2 separate regions of the Homo sapiens genome follow, and region 1 is linked to region 2. The links come from fine-mapping of genetic effects on gene expression. Tissue or cell type: substantia nigra. Region 2 holds a variant in brackets; the other region holds the start of a gene. All regions are shown on one strand. Distances are from middle to middle.

Evidence for each region. PIP is the estimated chance that this variant, and not a neighbour inherited with it, causes the effect.
Region 1: TMEM225B starts here. The variant in region 2 is the best candidate, but not a certain one, in a credible set for the expression of TMEM225B in substantia nigra (GTEx, PIP 0.73).

Annotation. Positions count from the first base shown.
Region 1 is chr7:99,594,649-99,603,959 of GRCh38, reverse strand. It overlaps TMEM225B (transmembrane protein 225B), which reads right to left and starts at 5,693. Exons shown (of 6, transcript NM_001195541.3): 1 at 5,579-5,693; 2 at 3,675-3,755.
Region 2 is chr7:99,559,175-99,571,006 of GRCh38, reverse strand. It overlaps ZNF655 (zinc finger protein 655), which reads right to left. Exons shown (of 3, transcript NM_138494.3): 2 at 10,312-10,474. The coding sequence starts at 10,447. Among named protein-coding and RNA genes, the nearest start is that of ZNF655, 6.4 kb to the right of the region's middle. The variant G/A (reference allele first, on the strand shown) is at 5,943.

The sequences.
Region 1 (9,311 bases), 34 kb before region 2:
AACATGGCGAAACCCCGTCTCTACCAAAAATTAGCCAGGCATGGTGTTGCACACCTGTAGTCCCAGCTACTCAGAAGCCTGAGGTGAGAGGATCGCCTAAGCCCAGGAAGGTCAAGGCTGCAGTGAACCATGATCACACCACTGCCCTCCAGCCTGGGTGACAGAGCAAGACCTTGTCTCAAAAAAAAACAAAAAAAAAAATTAAATAATTTAAAAAAAAGAAAAAAACTAAAGTTCTAAGCTTTCAATTCTTTTTTTTTTTTTTTAAGATGGAGTCTCGCTGTTGTCAGCCCAGGCTGGAGTGCAATGGCACCATCTCAGCTCACTGCAACCTCTGCCTCCCAGGTTCCAGCAATACTCCTGCCTCAGCCTCCTGAGTAGCTGAGATTACAGGCGCCCGCCACCACGCCCAGCTAATTTTTGTATTTTTAGTAGAGACAGCGTTTCACCATGTTGGCCAGGCTGGTCTCGAACTCCTGACCTCAGGTGATCCACCCGCCTCAGCCTCCCAAGGTGCTGGGACTGCAGGTGTGAGCCACCATGCCTGGCCCTAAGCTTTCAATTCTATCAACAGCCACCTCTACTGGCCATCAGGACAACTCCAGCCTATTTTGCAGTCAACTGTCTTCCTTTTGGGATTTCAGACTGAGAACCAAGGGGAGATATTCAGACCAGAGCCTTAGGTGCCCTTATTCAGTGACTGGCCTTCTGACCACAGGAACTGTGGGTTTAGGTGGGGAGAGGTCCATGTGCACAGGAGGAGCCCCTGCTGAGAAATGAGCAGGTCATGTACAAACAGGAAGTTTTACAAAGAGTTCTGGTGTTTCATAGAGCCTCCTGCAGCCTGGGCCCTCAGTGAAGGATCCCTATCACGTGGAGTTCCTCCCCCAAACCCATCTTCTCTTTCATCACCATCTGTCACTAAGATGTCTCCTTTTGTGGCCAGTCACTGGTGGCTCATGCCTATAATCCCAGCATTTTGGAAGGCTGTGGTGGGAGGATCGCATGAACTCAGGAGTTTTGAGACCAGCCTAGGCAACACAGTCAGACCAGTCTCCACAAGAAATTGTTAAAAATTAGCCAGGCTGGGGGCATGTGCCTGTCTGTAGTTCCCAGCTACTTGGGAGGATGAGGCAGGAGGAACTCTTGAGCCCAGGAGTTAGAGACTGCAGTGAGCTATGATCATGCCGCCGTACTCCAGCCTGGGCAACAAAGCAAGACCTTGTCTCTGAAAGAATAAAAATTTTCAAAAGATGTCATCTTTTGAATGAGTAGTTACACCGTGGTGGGTAAGTGCTGGCTGGTCTTGTCTCAGCTTCATCACTTCCTAGCTGTGTGATCTTGGGGAAGTTGCTCAGAGTCTCAGGACCTTGCTTTCCCCATCTGGAAAAGGAAGGATATAACACCTGCCTAAGGATAAGGAAGGATATATTATAACACCTGCCCAATGATAAGAATACAACACCTGCCACTGAGAGGACCAAATGAAATAACGCATACCAAAGTGTCCAACACAGTGCTGAGCACTCAGGTGCTTGGTTAAAGTTGGGAGGGCAGGGATGGAGGGCAGACTTCTAAAATTCAGATATCCCTGTGGGAGAAGGGGCTGGAGGCCACACCCAACTTCAGGACAAATTGTTTCAACGAATCTGCTTTCCCCTCTGTCTGTGCTGAGCCTGGCAGCTCTGAGGAATGAGAGTTATCCAGCAATGGGAAGGAAGGAAGCAGGGACGGTGATTGGAGCTGCAGGGAGGGTGGGCCTGGCCAGAGGCCTCCAGGTGGCACTGTGATGACCCTCGCTACCTGGCAGTGCAGAAAGGGGGCATCAGGTGAAAGGAAGATGTGACAAGGGAGGTGCACCCCAAGATGACAGTCTTTCTTTCCAAGTCCTACCCAAAGCCAGACCTGGGGACCCTTGCCTGTGCCAGGCTGGGCTTGGCAGCATCACGGTTTTCAAGCTGTGCCTGGGCAGTAGAGAGCACAAGGCCCTCGAAGTGAGCATGCTTTCCTCCCCTGCTCCCACACCCTGTGCAAACCTTGCCCAGTGCAGACACTGGGGCCTCTACCCAATCCCCATGCAGACCCTCACTGCAGCCAGGGAAGGGGGCGTCTTTGCCCATGCAGACACTTGCTGCAGCCAGGGAAGGGGGCGTCTCTGAGAGCTACCAATGGCTATGGCTGAACAAGCCTAATGGCAGAGGGCAGAGGTGTGGCTCCCTTCCTGTACCCCCCACACCCAAGTACCCTGGTTATAAACAGGTAAACACATGTTCATCTTCGATGCTGTCAGAGTGACTTGAAAATGTTTGTACTTTCTCTTCCTTTCTGACATTCTCTAGTTTCTCTTCTTCCCACTTGAAAAATTGAATTATTCCCTTCTTTCCTTATTATATTTTGTTTTTAGATACAGGGTCTCACTCTGTCACCCAGGCTAAACCTCCTGGGCACAAGTGATCCTCCCACCTCAGCCTCCTGAGTAGCTGGGACTACAGGTGCGTGCCACCACGCCCAGCTAATTTTTTAATTTTTTGTAGAGACAGGGGTCTAACTATGTTGCCCAGGGTGTCTTAAACTCCTGAGCTTAAGTGATCTTCCTGCCTTGGCCTCCCAAAGAGTTGGGATTACAGGCTTGAACCACCACACCCAGCCCTTCCCTCTCTTTAAATGTCCCCTTTCCATCTCCCATCCACTCTCCAGGTCATACAAGTCACCCCAACCTCAGGGCTTCCACTTCCTTCTATCTAAAATGATGAAGTCTGTTGGACCAGAGGGCATTGAGGCATCCTTCTAGTATTAGAACTCAATGGGAAGGAGTCATGGCTGCATCTTGATCCTGTCCTCTGTATAGATGGGAGTACACTGGGCATTCTCATTTGATAGGGGGCACCTCTTCCTGTCTACCCCATCTCCACCTGTATGTGACTAGAAGTGATCTCTGTCTCCTTTATTTTCTACCTTTTTTTCTCTCCTTCACCCAAACCCTAGCCTTGAGCTCATGCTGGTTCTTCCCTCTCCCCAACCCCACTTCCATCTCATCAGCCTTCCTCATCTTCTCAGTTTTCCCTTCATAAAGTTCCCCAACCTTCCAACCTTCCTGTCCCCACGCCTGCCACGTCTCCCTCCACACCTGGAACATCACCGTCATCCCCAGGCTCCTCTGGCCTCTGTACCTGGTGATTTGGTTTGGCTGTGTCCCCACCCAAATCTCACCTTGCATTGTAATAATCCCCATGTGTCAAGAGCAGGGCCAGGTGGAGATAATTGAATCACGGGGGCAGTTTCCCCCATACGGTTCTCGTGGTAGTGAATAAGTCTCACAAGATCTGATGGTTTTATAAGTGGAAGTTCCCCTGCTCAAGCTCTCTCCTGCCAGCCACCATGAAAGATGTGACTCTGCTCTTCATTCGCCTTCAGCCATGATTGTGAGGCCTCTGCAGCCATGTGGTGCGAGTCAATTAAACCTATTTCCTTTATAAGTTACCCAGTCTTGGGTATGTCTTTATTAGCAGCATGAGAACAGACTAATACACCTGGGTTCCTTCCTGGGGGCGGGGGTGCCTGTTCTGCTCCCCAGATTTTCCAAACCCCACTCCCCTGAAAAGTGCAGCTTGGTGCTGTCCACTCCACGCAGCCCTCCCAGCCACTCCCTCAGCAAAAATTCACTGTGCACTTACAGGTCGCCCCACTCCCAATGTAGGCCAATGGTGGGGATTCAGAGATGAAAAAAGGCAGGAACTCAGAGGCTCTTGGAACTGCTAGGGAGAGAGACACAGAAACACATCATGTGATGCAGTGCTTTTGTCTTCACAGCCCGGGGTTACTTTGGGGCCAGGTATACCCCAGGGCACTACCCCTTATCTGTCCCATTCCCACTGCCCCCTCCACTCTCCAGTGATGAGGACCTTGTCCTCCTTTCCCTGGGCACCAGTCCAGGTCCCTCCCTGAAGCAGCCCTTAGTGCCAGCACTGGACAAGGTTACATCTTCGGATACACAACTTCAGATCCGCACGGATATAGGCCAGACTGAAAGGTCATAGATATTTGAATATAAGAGGGGATTGGTAGATCCTTTTGTACAGAAGCAGAGATGGAGAGCTGGAGAGAGGGAATGACTGGTGGAGGATTCCACAGCCCATCAGTGCTGGCACAGGGACCAGAATACTGCATCACTGCCAGGACAGTCTCACCAGCCACCAATGGCCGGCAGTTCAATTCAGTGATTCCCAAATCTGGAATTCTGTGGATCCAGAGAATGCTTTCTTATAGGCATGTGCATGTGTGAGAAAGAGAGAGAGAATGGGGGAATATACGACTGCCAACTTTTTATTTTGCCAAGAGCATTAAAAACAAAGCAACTTATCTACTGTCACTGGTTTGGTTTTTATTCAAATTTTTGTTGTTGTTCTTTTTTGAGACAGGGTCTTGTGTCACCCAGGCTGGAGTGCAGTGGTGCATTCATGCCTCCTGGGCACAAGCGATCCTCCTGCCTCAGCCTCCCGAGTAGCTGGGACTACAGGTGTATGCCATTACACCTGGCTAATTTTTTTTTTGAGATGGGGTCTTGCTATGTTGCCCAGGCAACCCCTGGGCTCAAGTGATCCTCCCACCTTTACCTCCCAAAGTGCTGAAATTACAGGCATGAGGCCCCACGTCTGGCCAAATTATTATTTTTTAAAGGACCCATGGGCCGGGTGCGGTGGCTCACGCCTGTAATCCCAGCACTTTGGGAGGCCGAGGCAGGTGGATCACGAGATCAGGAGATCGAGACCATCCTAGCTAACACGGTGAAACCCCGTCTCTACTAAAAATACAAAAAAAAAAAAAAAAAAAAAAATTAGCCAGGCGTGGTGGGGGCGCCTGTAGTCCCAGCTACTCAGGAGGCTGAGGCAGGAGAATGGCGTGAACCCGGGAGGCGGAGCTTGCAGTGAGGCGAGATCGTGCCACTGCACTCCAGCCTGGGCGACACAGCCACAGCGAGACTCCGTCTCAAAAAACAGAAAGGACCCATAACACCAGGAGGTAAGAAAAGCTGTGTACCCCGTGGTGGTGCCTGGACCAGCGTCTGAGGACCACTGGCTTGGCAGGAGGTTCCTGGACCCTAGGCCCCCTTCAGCGCCTGAGCTGCAGCCCCGCACCTCCCAGGCCCTGGCACTTAACAGGAAAGTCGGCAGCTGCTCTGGGGATGAAGGAAGTGGGCGACCTGAAGGGCATCCTGGTTTGGAATGGGAAAGAGACCTTCCCTTCCCACTGTTTCCTCCGGTCATTTGTGGCAACTTGGACTGCACATTGACCCAGGGTAGGGTCAGAGGTTCCTTCCCGTTGACAACCGTCCTCGGCCCTTTCCCCTGAATGCCAGGACTCCGCCCTTCTGTGGCCCCAAAGCCATAGGGATATTTTCAAGACCCCAAGCTGGGCCCTAACCAGGCCATCCGCCCCCAGCCCCTGCCCCGGGCGTCCCACAGCCAGTTAGGCGATGTTCGGCCTTGGGTGGGTAGGGGGACTTCCCCACATCCTCTCCCAACCTGTGGGGCCACCTTGCTCTCCCCCATACTGGTCTCCCCTCTACCCTTCCCTCCACCTGCGGCACCGTCGTAGGCGGTTTCGCGTCCCAGAGCTGGGCTGCCCTCCAGGCGGGTCACGGTGGGACCCTCGCCCTCCACTCCAGGCTCCACCGCGCTCCTGGAGCTTCCGTTGGCCCCAGAGGCCCCGGCGGGGGGTTGCCCCGACCCGGGGGAGGAGCCCACTGAGCCTGGGCCTCTGAGCGGAGCTCCAGCTCCAGCTCTGCGGAGGAGACGCGGGCTCACCTCCCTACCTGCCGCCCCGGCCACCGCAAACCTGGCGGGTGGAGGGTGGGGAAACCAGGCCCTGGCGTCTGCCCACAGTACCGGCTTCGCTCACGGGTGTGTGGGGGCGGAGGAACAGAGAGCGGGAGGGATCTGAATTCAAATCCTAGCTCTGCCATTACCAGCGTGGGGACTTTGAATAAATTTCCTGTGTCTCCTTCCTGGGTCCTGGGCTTCTAATCTGTAAAATGGGAATAATAATAGTATTAATAATATGGTGTTAATAGTATTAACACTATTATATTAATGATATACTATTAACACTATTATATTAGTAATATAGTGTTGAGTGTTAACACTTATATTAATAATATAGCGTTAATAGCATTAACACTATTGTATTAATAATATAGGGTTACTATTAACACTGCTATATTAATAATACATGATTAACACTATTAATCATATAATAGTGTTAACACTATAATATTAACAATATAATATAGTGTTAACACTATTATAGTGTTAACACATATTATATTAATAACACTATTATATTAATAATAATTGTTAATAATATAGTGTTAACAGTATTATAATTATATTAATAATTAATAACACTCGTATATTAATATTATAATTAATAATAATAAAGTGTTAATAGTATTAACACTATTATATTAATGATAATAGTGTTAACACTATTAATAATGTAATAGTATCTACACTATAATAATAATATAGTGTTTCATAATATAGTGTTAGGCCGGGCGCGGTGGCTCACGCCTGTAATCCCAGTCCTTTGGGAGGCCAAGGCAGGCGGATCACGAGGTCAGAAGATCGAGACCATCCTGTCTAACACGGTGAAACCCCGTCTCTACTAAAAAATACAAAAAATTAGCCGGGCGTGGTGGGGGCGCCTGTAGTCCCAGTTACTCGGGAGACTGAGGCAGGAGAATGGTGTGAACCTGGGAGGCGGAGCTTGCAGTGAGCAGAGATGGCACCACTGCACTCCAGCCTGGGCGACAGAGCAAGACTCTGTCTCAAATAATAATAATAATATAGTGTTAACACTATTATATTAATAATATAGTGCTAACACCATTATATTAATAATATAGTGTTAATAGTATTAACATTATTATATTAATAATATAGTGTTAACACATATTAGTAATGTAGTGTTAACACTATCATATTAAAAATATAGTGTTAGTAGTATTAACTCTCATATTAATAACAGTGTTAACACTATTATATTACTAATATAGTGTCAATAGTATTAACATTATTATATTAATAGTAGCACACTGTGATATTACTAATATCTGTAATGTTAATGATATTCAGTGTTAGCACACTGTGGTATTACTAACATCTATGATATTCATAGTATTCAGTGTTAGCACACTGTGATATTACTAATATTTGTGACATTAATAATATCCAGCGTTAGCACACTGTTAACACACTGTGATATTACTAATATCTATATTATCTATCATATTAGTGATATCCAGTGTTAGCACACTGTATTAACACACTGTGATATTACTAATATCTGTGATATTAATAATATCCAGTGTTAGCACACTGTGCTATTACCAATATTTGTGACATTAATAATTTCCAATGTTGGCACACTGCAATGTTAATAATATCTATGATACTAAAAATATCCAGTGTTAGCACCCTGTGTTGTGTTAATAATGTCTATGATATTAATAATATCAAGTGTTAGCACCCTGTGATGTGTTAATAATAATATGATATTAATAAAATCTAGTATTAGCACCCTGTGACTTGCTAATAATAATATCCAGTGTTTGCACCCTGTGTTGTGTTAATATCAATGATATTAATAATATCCAGTGTTAGCACACCGTGATAATAATATCCAGTGTTAACACAGTGTTAGCACATTGTGATATTAATAATTTATATGATATTCATAATATCCAGTGTTAGCACACTGTGTTAGCAAAATGTGATATTAATATCTATGATCTTCATAGTGTCCAGTGTTAGCACACTGTGATATTAATATTATCTATGATATTCATAATATCCAGTGTTTGTTAGCACACTGTGTTATCATACCATATTATTCATAATATCCATGATATTAATGCTGATATCCAGTGTTAACACACTATGTTAACACACTGTGATACTATTCATAGTATCTGTGATATTATTACTAACACACATTAGATATTAATACTAATATCCAGTGTTAACACACTGTTATATTACTCAGAATATTCATGATATTACTACTAATGTCCAGTGTTAACACACTGTGATATTTTTCATGATATCACTAATATCCAGTGTTGACACACTGTGTTAACACACTGTGATATTATTCCTAATATCCACAATATTACTACTGATATCCACTGTTGTTAACACACGGTGATATTATTCATAATATCCAGTGTATTACTATTGATATCCAGGGTGTTAATACAATTAATATCCATGATATTATGAATAATATCACCCTGTGATATCCAGGATGATATCCTGATACTGATCCACTACTGATACCCAAGATGTTAACACATTGTGTTAACACCCTGTGATATTATTCATAATGTCTATGATGTTACTACTGATATCCAGGGTGTGAACACACTGTGTTAGCACCCTGTGATATTATTCATAATATCCATGATATTACTACTGACATCCAGGGTGATAATGCAGTGTTAACACACTGTGTTATGTTTGTAACATCATCGATATCACTACTGACATCCAGTGTTTCACACTGTGATATTAATGAAATATCGCTGTTACATTTATAATATACAGTGTTTCCACACTGTGCTATGTATGAAATATAGTATCCAGTGTTTCCACACTGTGCTATGAATGAAATATTATACTATCCAGTGTTTTCATACCGTGCTATGAATGAAATATTATAATATCCGGTGTTTCCAAACTGTGCAATGAATGAAATATTATACTATGCAGTGTTTCCAAACTGTGCTATGAATGAAATAATATTCAGTGTTTCCACACTGTGCTATGAATCAAATATTATAATATCCAGTGTTTCCACACTATGCTACGAATGAAGTATTATAATATTCAGTGTTTCCACACAGGGATATGAATGAAATATTATATTACGCAGTGTTTCCGCACTGTGCTATGAATGAAATATTAAAATATCCAGTGTTTCCAAACAGGGATATGAATGAAGTATTAAAATATCCAGTGTTTCCACATAGGGATATGAATGAAATACTAAAATATCCAGTGTTTCCACAAAGGGATATAAATGAAATATCGCTGTGATATTTATAATATCCACTGTTCCCACACAGGAATAAAGTTGAAATCCTGCTGTGATATTTATAATATCCAGCGTTTCCACACAGAGATATAAATGAGATATAGCTGTGATATATATAATATCCAGTGTTTCCACATAGGGCTATAAATGAAATATCGATGATATTTATAATATCCACTGTTTATACATAGAGATACAAATGAAATGTCCCTGTGATA
Region 2 (11,832 bases):
CAATAAAATATAGAGAGGGAAGTGCAATCAGTGCATCTTCACATAAAACAGTCTTTCTATGGCTTGCATAATGCAATGCTTGGATATAAATCTCTTTTAAAGCTAAAGCAACAGGCAGTCTGCTTCCAAGGAGACAGAATTTTAATACTATTAGTATCAAAGGGCAGTTTTTAAATGTGTCCAGCCCAGAAAGCTTCTAATAGCACACATACAAGGTCTGGCTCAAGCCCCTCATCTCCAAAAACCTTTCTCTCCATTTACTGAATGTGTACAAAATTTATTAGTTGTTCCCTCTTATCCTGACATGTCACATATAACGGTGTTTACATAGATTTTTTTTTAAGTGGTTTCAGGTATTGTCATTCATACTTGATTTATAAACTCTTTGATAGAAGGGACCAGGTATCTTGTATCTTGCAATTCTTTTGATTAATTTACTTAACGGCTACTTATTGAGTGCCAACTCTGTGCGCCCAAGTATCAATGTATTAACAGCTACCCAATTTTATAAAAAGGGCATTGGGGCTGGAAAATATGAAGAACTGACAGCTGCCCCAAAGATTCCATGTGAGAGCCTATGAGCAAGGAGATCAGAATAGATAGAAGAAAGGTATTTACTGTGTTTCTGAAATCCTGTGGGACATTTAGAGTCAACTCTCCTTGTGGACATATATTTAATTAAGGTCCACCCTGTCAAATGAAATCGTTTCAGAAGTTTAAAAAGTAAAGTTAGTGTAACATGAAGCAGCAATCAATATTGTTCTCAGAATTCCAATAACATAATTTGCAACTTTTAACTCTGAGATATTTAAAGTGTCTGTCGATATTTGGTAACTGAAATAAATTCTGGCTGCTTACTCCATATCTACACTTAAAACACATATGCACAACAAAAAAGGTGGTCTTCATGTGGGATGAGGGGTTTGATTTTAGATGTGTGTTTAATGTAATGTACGAAGGTATAAGAGAAAATGCCCAGCAGATGAGTACGCAAAGGCATACAGAGTGATAAAATGGACTTCAGAGACTAAGAAGGGAAAGGGTGGGAGAAGGGACAAGGGATAAAAAACTATATATTAGGTACAATGTACACTATTCCAGTGACAGGTGCACTAAAATCTCAGAATTCACCACTATGTATTAGAATTCATCCATGTAACAAAAAACCACTTGTACGCCCCCAAAACTACTGAAATAATTTTTTTTAAAAGAGAAAATGCCTAGCAGGTAAAGATACAATATCACAGTTTAGAAGAGAGAACAGGGTATCATCAGTACCATCAAAATATTATTAAGTTTTACTAAGTACTTGGTAGGTGCAAAGTACCATGCCAAGAGCTCTCTAGGTTTTCACTCATTTAATACCATAAATTTAAAACGTAGAAACTATTATTATAGCCATTTTACAGATGGGAATACTAAGATTCAGAGTGGTTAAGTAGCTTGCCCAAGGTTACAATAACTGGTAATGCTTAGTTTTCAAACCTGCACAGTCTTATTTCAGAACCTAGCCTTTAAACAATCTGCTAGTAAAAAAAAAATTATGATTTTGCCTCCTAACAAGCCCTGAAAAAAAATAAATAATGACTGTGAACAAAATCCATCCCTTCCTCCAAATTACACACAGAAAGAACGTGTAAGTTTTCTTGGCACTAGCCTAAATGCCTATTTCCTAAATTTAACTCAAAACTTTGCTTTCAAAATATGCACTTGCTTTATTTACATTTTTCCTGTTTAAAATTAATGTATTAAAACTTTTTGATTTTATTTAAATCTTGAGTTTTCTAATATGATTTATAAAATATTGACAGTGAAGTAAAAGGTAAATACAAACAACAGAGAAAAAGTGATTAGAATAACATACGGTGAACCAGGATCCTAAATAATTGGAGTCGCAGAAGTGTTAATTAAAAGGGATCTATGGCTGGGCACAGAAGCTCACACCTGTAATCCCAGCACTTTGGGAGGCCATGACGGACAGATCACTTCAGCCCAAGAGTCTGAGACCAGCCTGGGCAACATAGTGAGATCCCACCTCTACAAAAAATACAAAAATTAGCCAGGCATGGTGGCACACGCCTGTAGTCCCAGCTACTTGGGAGGCAGAGGCAGAATGATCGCTTGAGCTCAGAAGGCCGAGGCTGCAGAGAGCCAAGATCACACCACTGTACTCCAGCCTGGGTGAGAGTGAGATCCTGTCAGTCAGTCAGTCAGTCAATCAACCAACAAACGAATCAAGAGGATCTATGGACCAGGCATGGTGGCTCACACGTGTAATCCCAGCACTTTGAGAGGTCAAGGCAGGAGGATCTCATGAGCTCAGGAATTTGAGACCTGCTTGGGGAACATAGTGAGACTCCATCTCTACAAAAAATTAAAATTAAAAATTAAAAGGGATCTAAAAGATGATTTATTATCAAGGAAATGGAAATCCTTTACAATAAAAATCCAAACCCCAGCCAGGCACGGTGGCTCGCGCCTGTAATCCTAGCACTTTGGGAGGCCAAGGCAGGCAGATCACAAGGTCAGGAGATCGAGACCATCCTGGCTAACACGGTGAAACCCTGTCTCTACTAAAAATACCAAAAATTAGCCGGGCGTGATGGCGGGTGCCTGTAGTCCCAGCCACTCGAGAGACTGAGGAAGGAGAATCGCTTGAACCCGGGAGGCAGAGGTTGCAGTGAGCCGAGATCACGCCACTACACTCCAGCCTGGGAGACTCCATTTCAAAAAAAAAAAAAAAAATCCAAATCCCTAGACAATAGTCCAAACAATAATAAATTTGAGGAAACTCCACTATAAATAAATAATTTGAACACACTCCTGAAATTTTTATTTGTATTAAAAAATCTGGTCTATGGCTCATATCGCTTGCTATTCTTTCCAAAATATTAAAGTAACTAGCACAAGGCAGGTACTTAATTTTTTTTTTTTTTTTTTGGCCGGGGGGTATGGAGTCTCGCTCTGTCGCCCAGGCTGGAGTGCAATGGCATGATCTTGGCTCACTGCAACCTCCACCTCCCGGGTTCAAGCGATTCTCCAGCCTCAGCCTCCTGGGTAGCTGCAATCACAGGCATGTACCACCATGCCCAGCTAATTTTTGTATTTTTAGTAGAGACGGGGTTTCACCATGTTGGTCAGGCTGGTCTCGAACTCCTGACCTTGTGATCCGCCCACCTCACCCTCCCAAAGTGCTGGATTACAGGCGTGAGCCACCGCACCCGACACAAGCCAGGTACTTATATGCATAATCTAATTCAATCCTGTACCCAGAAGGTAGACATTATTTTTCATGTTTTATAAACCAAGAAAATGAGTGTCAGATTAAATAATTTGCTCAACATACTACAGCTGGTAAGTGGAACCCAAGCTTGATCCCAGTTTATATTCTTTCCAACCTATCATACTGCCTATCAAAGAAAGCATTAGTAGCAGGTTCTCTTGACATTGACGTGAATGCTTTTTTTTTTTTTTTGAGACGGAGTTGCACTCTGTCACCCAGGCTGGAGTGCAATGGCACGATCTCGGCTCACCTCAACTCCACCTCCTGGGTTCAAGTGATTCTCCTGCCTCAGCCTCCAGAGTAGCTGGGATTACAGGCATGCGCCACCATGCCCGGCTAATTTTGTATTTTTAGTAGAGACGGGGTTTCTCCATGTTGGTCAGGCTGGTCTCGAACTCCCAACCTCAGGTGATCCGCCTGCCTTGGCCTCCCAAAGTGCTGGGATTACATGTGTGAGCCACAGCACCTGGCCGACTCTATGCTTTCAAAATATGCACTTGCTTTACATTTTTTCCGTTTAAAATTAAGTTATTAAAACCTTTTGATTTTAAGGCTGGATGTGGAACACATGAGGCCAAGAGTTCAAGACCAGCCTGGCCAACATGGCAAAACCCCATCTCTACTAAAAATACAAAAATTAGCTGGGTATGGTGGTGCATGCCTGTAGTCCCAGCTACTCTGGAGGCTGAGGCACAAGAATGGCTTGGGCCTGAGAGGCGGAGGTTGCAGTGAGCTGACATTGTGCCACCACACTCCAGCCTGAGCGACAGAGCAAGACTGTCTCCAAAAAAAAAATTATTTTATTTAAATCTTGAGAGTTTTCTAATAAAATTTATTTTAATCTGGTCTTCAAAAATAACAGTTAAAGCTGAGCATGGTGTTGGCTCACATGTGTAATCCCAGGACTCTGGGGAGCTGAGGCATGCAGATCACTTGAGCCCAGGAGTTCAACAGCCTGGGTAACATAGCGAAACACCTTCTTTACTAAAAATAGAAAAAAATTAGCATGATGGTACAGGCCTATAGTCCCAGCTACCCAGAAGGCTGAGGTAGGAGGATCACCTGAGCCTGGAGGGAAGTCCAGGCTGCAGTGAGCTGTTATCATGCCACTGTATTCTAGCCTGGGCAACAAGAGGGGACCCTGCCTCAAAAATAATATTTAAAATTTGCCTTATCATATGGTTTGCTGCTTTTACTACGGCTATGCTTTTAGCCATCTGAAAGCTTCACGCTTTTCTTCCTGGTCCTTAATACACAAATAATATCTCTCCTTAGCAATATCATTCTTTTGTAGATACCTGTTGGACTGGAATGTGTCCCTAGAGAGTTTTACTTTTTGAATGCATGTCCTTTCTGGTCCCAAACTATATACTGGCCTGTCTGTCCAATTTGTCATGGCATTTTGAATTTTTCTTGTCATCAGAGTACACACAACTCACTAAAAATATTAAAAACTCCATGTGTAGTTGAACTTATTGTCCTAAGGGCACAAAGTAGTGAAAAAGTGCAGGGGCTTCAGAGGCAGATCTGGGTCCCAAGCCTCTCACTGATCCTGCAAAGATCACTTAACTTCTCTGAGCCTCAGTTTCCTCAGATATAAAATAGGAGCAGTGTCATCTGCTCACAGGGTTATGGTAAGGATTAAATGAGATATATACACATATCCTTTATATATATATATACACACACACACACACACACATATAAATGTCCTATGTCTGTGTGTGTGTATATACATATGTGTGTGTGTGTGTATACATACATATATATAGTACCCAATAACATATTGGCTGCTCAATAAATACTAAATAGCTGTGACAATGGAAAACATTCTGTGCAAAATAACTGTAGTCCTTCATGACATCAAGTTAAAAAAGCAGAGAGTATGTGCCAAACATTCCCAATCTACTGACCCAGTTAATATCAATTAGAATTTTAACAAGCATGCTTCTGAGGCCATCATCTAATAGGGCACCTGCCACACTTACCCATGTGAAAAGCAACTCGGTCCCCTTTATGGGTCTTAATCTACCACACTAAGTAACAGGTAACTTCCCTATGGATAGTGACCCAGAGGCAAATTGTTCATTCATCATCAATGGAGTATGTTCTTTTTTCAATTATGTGGTAACGAAAATTACTTATTACCGACTTCTTTACTCAGCTATTTGTACTCTGTATATTTACTGCTGCATAGTGGAAGCACTTAAGCAAAGGACCAACGTTCTAATGTCTGTGACAAATACAATCTGGAGGCCAGGCGCAGTGGCTCACAACCTGTAATCCCAGCACTTTGGGAGGCCGAGACAGGCGGATCACGAGGTCAGGAGATCGAGACCATCCTGGCTAAGATGGCAAAACCCCATCTCTACTAAAAATACGAAAAGATTAGCCAGGCATGGTGGCGAGCATCTGTAGTCCCAGCTACTTGGGAGGCTGAGGCAGGAGAATGGCATGAAGCCGGGAGGTGGAGCTTGCGGTGAGCAGAGATGGTGCCACTGCACTCCAGCCTGGGCAACAGAGCAAGACTCCGTCTCAAAAAAAAAAAAAGTCTTACAACCCTAAAAAGTTAAATTAATAAATGTATAAACTTAACCCAGTTATGCTGGAGGTTGCAATTTTTGTTAAAAATCAGACCTTGGCGATGACCTTGAGCAGC[G/A]GGACATAAATAATTCCCGCAAGCTTAGTGTTCCAATAATGGAACACTAGGCATAAATGGGTTAATTTTCAGATGAAGTCTGCTGAACCCAAAAATATGAAAATGATTTCCCAAGGATTGTAAAAATAACTGCTAAGGAGATGCTGCTAACTTGATCACAAAAGCAAGATGAGTAGAAGGCTTTCTTGCACTGTGCGTGTCTCTTGTATGTGTAAAAGTGTGTATGCATGTCGACTGCATGTCGAGTGTGCAGTGCAGAGATAAGAGAGGAAATGGGATAAAGTTCAGTCTATAGCATACTATGCTATTAGACTGCATTAAACTGCTACAAAGTTTCTTTACTCCAAAAAGTAGACAGGTTAACTGTTGGAAACTCTGTAATTATTAGATAAAATTAACAGTACTTTACAATTATATGTATGTCACTTTACAGTTTACAAAGTTATTAAGTAGATATTCAATTTGATGCCCTGAAATAAATTTAACTTCTTTGCCCTCCCTTCTCCCCTCCATCAAGGACAGAGTAAGGAACACTTAATCAGGAAAGGCAATATAATTGCATCAATCTGTACAGAACCACAAAGAATAAAGGGTAGGAAGGTAGGACCTTGAAGAGGGCCACAGGGACTTCAAGGAAGGAGGAAACCAGAATGTTAAACATGAGGGAAGCCCAGGGTTCACAGGAGAGTTAGGCACCATACGGGGCAGGTTGTGTTCGCCACATAAAAGGAGGGGCACACAGCATAAGTTTCACATTCTAAAATAATATGAAAAGACCATAACTGAAGAGCTGAATTTGGAATTTCTGGTTTTTCACAATACAAGTAGATGATGACCACCAACCATGGTTTCTGAATGAACTGGGTTCAAAACATATCTGGTTGCAACAGAGGGCTTCCTTGGACCCTAACATTTGAAATTAAACAGAGGTAATTTGAGGAGCTGCGATTTTACACAGTGGTGGCATCCTGGGGAGCTTCTATTCCATCAGTCAATTTTAATATCTCACAATCGTGGAAAAGGAGTTTCCGAGCAGGGACGAGCAATATCGATGGGAAGCCGATACTTGGGCCATCTCTTGGAGATTCCTGCTGTAAGGACGGCAAGTGTTTCTCCAGAGAAAGCACTTGCCTGGGTATGACTCAGGGCCGGGCAGGAATTCACACTATGAATCCGGGTGGTGGGAAGGCGGAGAAGTATGCCTACAAAGATTAAAGAGCCAGGAATGGAAAACACACTAAAAACCGTCCCAGTGGGCAGCCTGCCTCCCCACAAATAAGAAGACCTTGAATCCTGAGCATAATCAGGGAGACAAAGCAATGCCCTGGATGCCACCAGCATAGACAAAGCCAACGGAAAAAAAAAAAAGAAAAGAAAATGCATGATTCAGTATTTACACACACAAAAAGAAGAGTGCAGAAGCAAGCAAGAAACTAAAGAAAAAGGAGGCTGGGTGCGGTGGCTCATGCCTGTAATTCCAGCACTTTGGGAGGCCAAGGAAGGTGGATCACTTGAGGTCAAGAGTTCGAGATCAGCCTGACCAGCATGGTGAAACCCCGTCTCTACTAAAAATACAAAATTAGGCGGGCGTGGTGGCCCATGCCTGTAATCCCAGCTACTTGGGAGGCTGAGGCAGGAGAATCGCTTGAACCTGGAAGGCAGAGGTTGTAGTGAGTTGAGATTGCACCACTGCACTCCAGCCTGGGCAACAAGAGTGAAACTCCATCTAAAAATAAAATAAAATAAAAAATATAATATAATATAAAAAATAAACTAAAGAAAAAGGAACAATGCTCACACCAAGGGAGCTGCCGACAAACCCCACTGATGCTTCCCAGCAGCACTACAGCTTGGCTAATCCCAGCTTCCCACTGTACCTTTCAAAATGACAAGGGAGAGACATGAGTTAAGCATTGACCCCACCTCAGCATGGGGTAAACATCTGAGATTTCTGCTGCCCTGGGTGTGGTTACGTGGGATTACCATTCTGGGTGACTCACTGAAATGTACTCACAGTGAGTCATGCCTTCAAATGACATCTCAAGTTCTGCCTGCTTGGAGATACATCTGGGGATCTTAAGGGGTGAGGGACTACTCAACAAGAAGGAATTTAGCCTGTCTTTTTAAATAAACGGCATTTCTTTTTCCTAGAAAAATGGGAAATTCTTCAATTCTCTAATACAGGGACACTGAGATAACAAAGAGGAAAGTGTCTGGTTGGAGGTTGGGAGGCCACCCTGGGGTCTCTCCTACAAAAATGGAAAAGAAAAGAACGGTGAGAAATCAAGCAAAGCACAAGAAAGTTTCCCTTTGCTAAAAGGGAAAAGATGCCCCACAATGGCCATAAACATGAACTGGGGATAAGGAGGAGAATGTCTCTTCTTGGCACCCCCAAACAAACGTTAATTACCCCTCCCGGAGAAGACGATGTGAAAGATAAGGATTCAGAGGTTCTAAGTCCTGGAATCTAAGCCACACTCTACAGACCTTCTCAGAGACCTTATACTTAGGAAGAAACAAGAAAGTAAAGAAATTCAAATAGATAAACCGAATAATAAGGAAGTCCTTACCCAGTGAGACCACGTTCCCATAATTCTCTAACATCACTTCTCTGTAGAGGTCCCTCTGAACAGGGTCCAGGTATCCCCATTCCTCTCGAGTAAGGTGCACAGCCACATCCTCGAATGTCACAAACTCCTGAAATAACACATCCTGGCTGCTCTGAGGAATGAGAACACTGTAGCACCATGGCCAGAGAATGAAGATCATAGAGAGGGTATCCACTGTGTACTTACGTTGAGGAGGAGGGAGAACAGATTAGAACCTACGGAATAAAGCCCATAACCCTTAAACATCTAATAAGCACCCATCACACAACCATGGACAAAGAGAAAACAGAGTTTGCTCATGGCACTGGGGAGATGGGAAGTTGGTTTATGTGAAGTCCAGGTCTCCGAAGAGGATCAATTCCCAAACTGGAGTCTGCTATTGAAAAAAATTCCAGGCAAGGTCTACAGATGGGATGAGAGAGAGGCCACACTCCATCAGTAGCAATAGTCCCTGAGGAAAAGCAGAGGGTTCCTCAGCTCACCTGGTACCTGGCTGTCAAGAGCGCAGCTGCCTGGTCTCCTGGGCTTCCCTCACGGGGAAGAGCAGGCACCTGAGGAACAGGTGGAGCTGAGGGAGGAGAAAGGAGTGAAGAGTGAGAGCAGCCCTTTCCCAGGGCTCCCTTTCAGAGGAGGCCTCTCCAGCCCAAGGGGTGTCAGCAGGACCCTCCTCAATACTCTAGTAAAACCAATGAACATTTTTCAGGTATTGGGTGTGTCTACTCTGCTTCGTCTCAGTACTTGCATGCCTTATGCGTGTTTTGACCTGTGATACAGGATTTTCTTAGGAAAGCTTGTATTTCACTTTATCTTCATCACATGACAGTCCTCTTACAGAAGAGTAAGACTATACCTGTTTTGCAGATGGGCAAAGCAAAGCATAAAGACTTGTGGGGACTTGTCCTGGGCTAGGGTTATTTAGCAGACTTCTGACCCTTTCCAGGCACTGTTCTAGACACTTGATCAGCGTTTCTCTTGTGAATGGGTGCTGTCTCAACCAGTGTGTAAGGCCCCCAAGAACAAGAAAGGGTCATCTGTTTCCTCGAAATCTTTTCCACAGTCCCACAATCCCCCACAGCACTCTACACATTGTGGCACTTGATCTGTGTGGGTGACACACAAGTTATTTCAGGCACTAGAGTTAACCACAGGCAATCTAAGACACAGCTCTTATAAAACAAAGGAAGAAAAAGACCAACCTACCTATACGATACAGCAAAGTGTGACTGCGTAGTCAAAATACAGTATATATACATTCATACAGGCATTGTGTTCAACCAAGGAATTAAATGGTTGCTTCCTTGACCAAATTTAGTCTAGTCACAAAACACTGCAGTTACAACAGAATGGATGGCAGGTGACAAAGCAAAGAAAAACTAAGTGAAGGGAACAGGGGAAAGAAAGGTCCTGAACCTAAGAGGAAGTGAGAGCCAGGAAAGGACTGTGAGATGTGGCAAAAGCAGCATATCTTAGAAATTATTCTGGATGTGAGAACTGGGATGAAGTGAAGGTTGCCTGAAGGAAAAACCACCACAGCGAGTAAGCAGCCATCACTCTGCTTATTTGAGAAAGATGAGCTATCCTTAATAAAGGGGCTCAGACTAGGACTGAACTGAGTCACATCTGCCCCCTCTTTCATTCCTCCCTCTAGGGACCATGTTCTTATTCCAGTTCTTGGCCTCTCTCAAACCAGGCCCAGGAGCCCCCTCGGGAGCCCCTCCGCACTCCCACTCTCCCAGACGGAAGTGCTTTCTCTGCCTTACCCCCAGTGAGTCCCTGTTCCATGTCGGTGTCCTGCACAAACTGAGGCTCTGGGGACAGACACTCAGACTGGGTCTCCAAAGACTGAAACTGGACCCTTGGTGACCCTGCTGCTTCCTGGGCTGGTATTTCCTCCATCACTGCTCTGGAGGACAATGACCATCACTGCAAGGTAAGATTAAGAGAAATTACTGTAATAAGTTAAAGCATTTCATCATTTTATATCGTCAGGACTTTGCAAAGGATCTTACACACTATGGATATTCAATAAAAATTAGTTGATAATGATTAACCACCCTAAATAAGTAACAGAAAAATGGGGCCAGGCGCAGTGGCCTGTAATCCCAGCACTTTGGGAGGCTGAGGCGGGAAGATCACTTGAGGTCAGGAGTTCAAGACCAGCCTGATCAACATGGTGCAACTTCTTCTCTACTAAAAATACAAAAATTAGCCAGCGTGGTGGTGCGGGTCTGTAATCCCAGCTATTCGGGAGGCTGAGGCAGGAGAATTGCTTGAATACAGAAGGCATACGTGGCAGTGAGCCAAGATTGCACCACTGCACTCCAACCTGGGCAACACAGTGAGACTCCGTCCCAAAAAAAAAAAAAAGAAAAAAAAGAAAAAGAAATATGGATATGCTTCAGCTTTAAATACTTAAGAACCAAATCATAGAAGAGTCTCTAATTTGGAATTTGTGGCATTAAAAAAATTAACACGGTACAATTTAATAGTGTAAAGCTTTCTGTGGAAACTTTAAAATATTTAAAATTGGCCACGTGCGGTGGCTCAAGCCTGTAATCCCAACAGTTTGGGAGGCACAGACGGGTGGATCCCTTAAGCTCAGGAGTTCCAGACCGTCCTGGACAACATGGTGAAACCCCGTCCCTACAAAAAAAAAAAAAAAAAAAAAAATTAGGTGGCCCAGGCCTGTAGTTCCAGCTACTCCAAAGGCCAAGGCAGGAGAATCGCTTGAGCTTGGGAGGTAGAGGCTGCAGTGAGCTATGACTGCGCCACTGCATTCCAGCCTGTATGACAGCGTGACAGCCCACCTCAAATAAACAAAACAAAATATTTAAAATTTACAATCGTCTTTGGAGGCTCAAGTTGGTGCCCAGAGAAAAATGCTAGTTATGATTGCTCATTTTATTTTAATTTTGTTTTAGCAGAGATGGGAGTCTCGCTATGTTGCCCAGGCTGGACTCGAACGCCTGGCCTCAAGCGATCCTCCCACTTCGGCCTCCCAAAGTGCGGGGATTACGGCGTGAACCACCGTGACAGGCCCGCGTTTACGTAAATAAACTCATTTAAATAAATAAAACAGCAGGCCCCCTAGGAAATGTCTTGGTAACACCGTCAGCCCACTCCGATTTACTACACGGGCTTGGCGAATAAAACTCCACTTTTGGGGTCAGGCCCTTCGCTAACTCAGACCAGCTAGACCGGCCTTTTCCCGGAATCCTGAGAGCAACGCAGGTAAGAGCTGCGGTTCGAACAGGTTTGAGCGGCGTCCTTCAGGCCCAAGG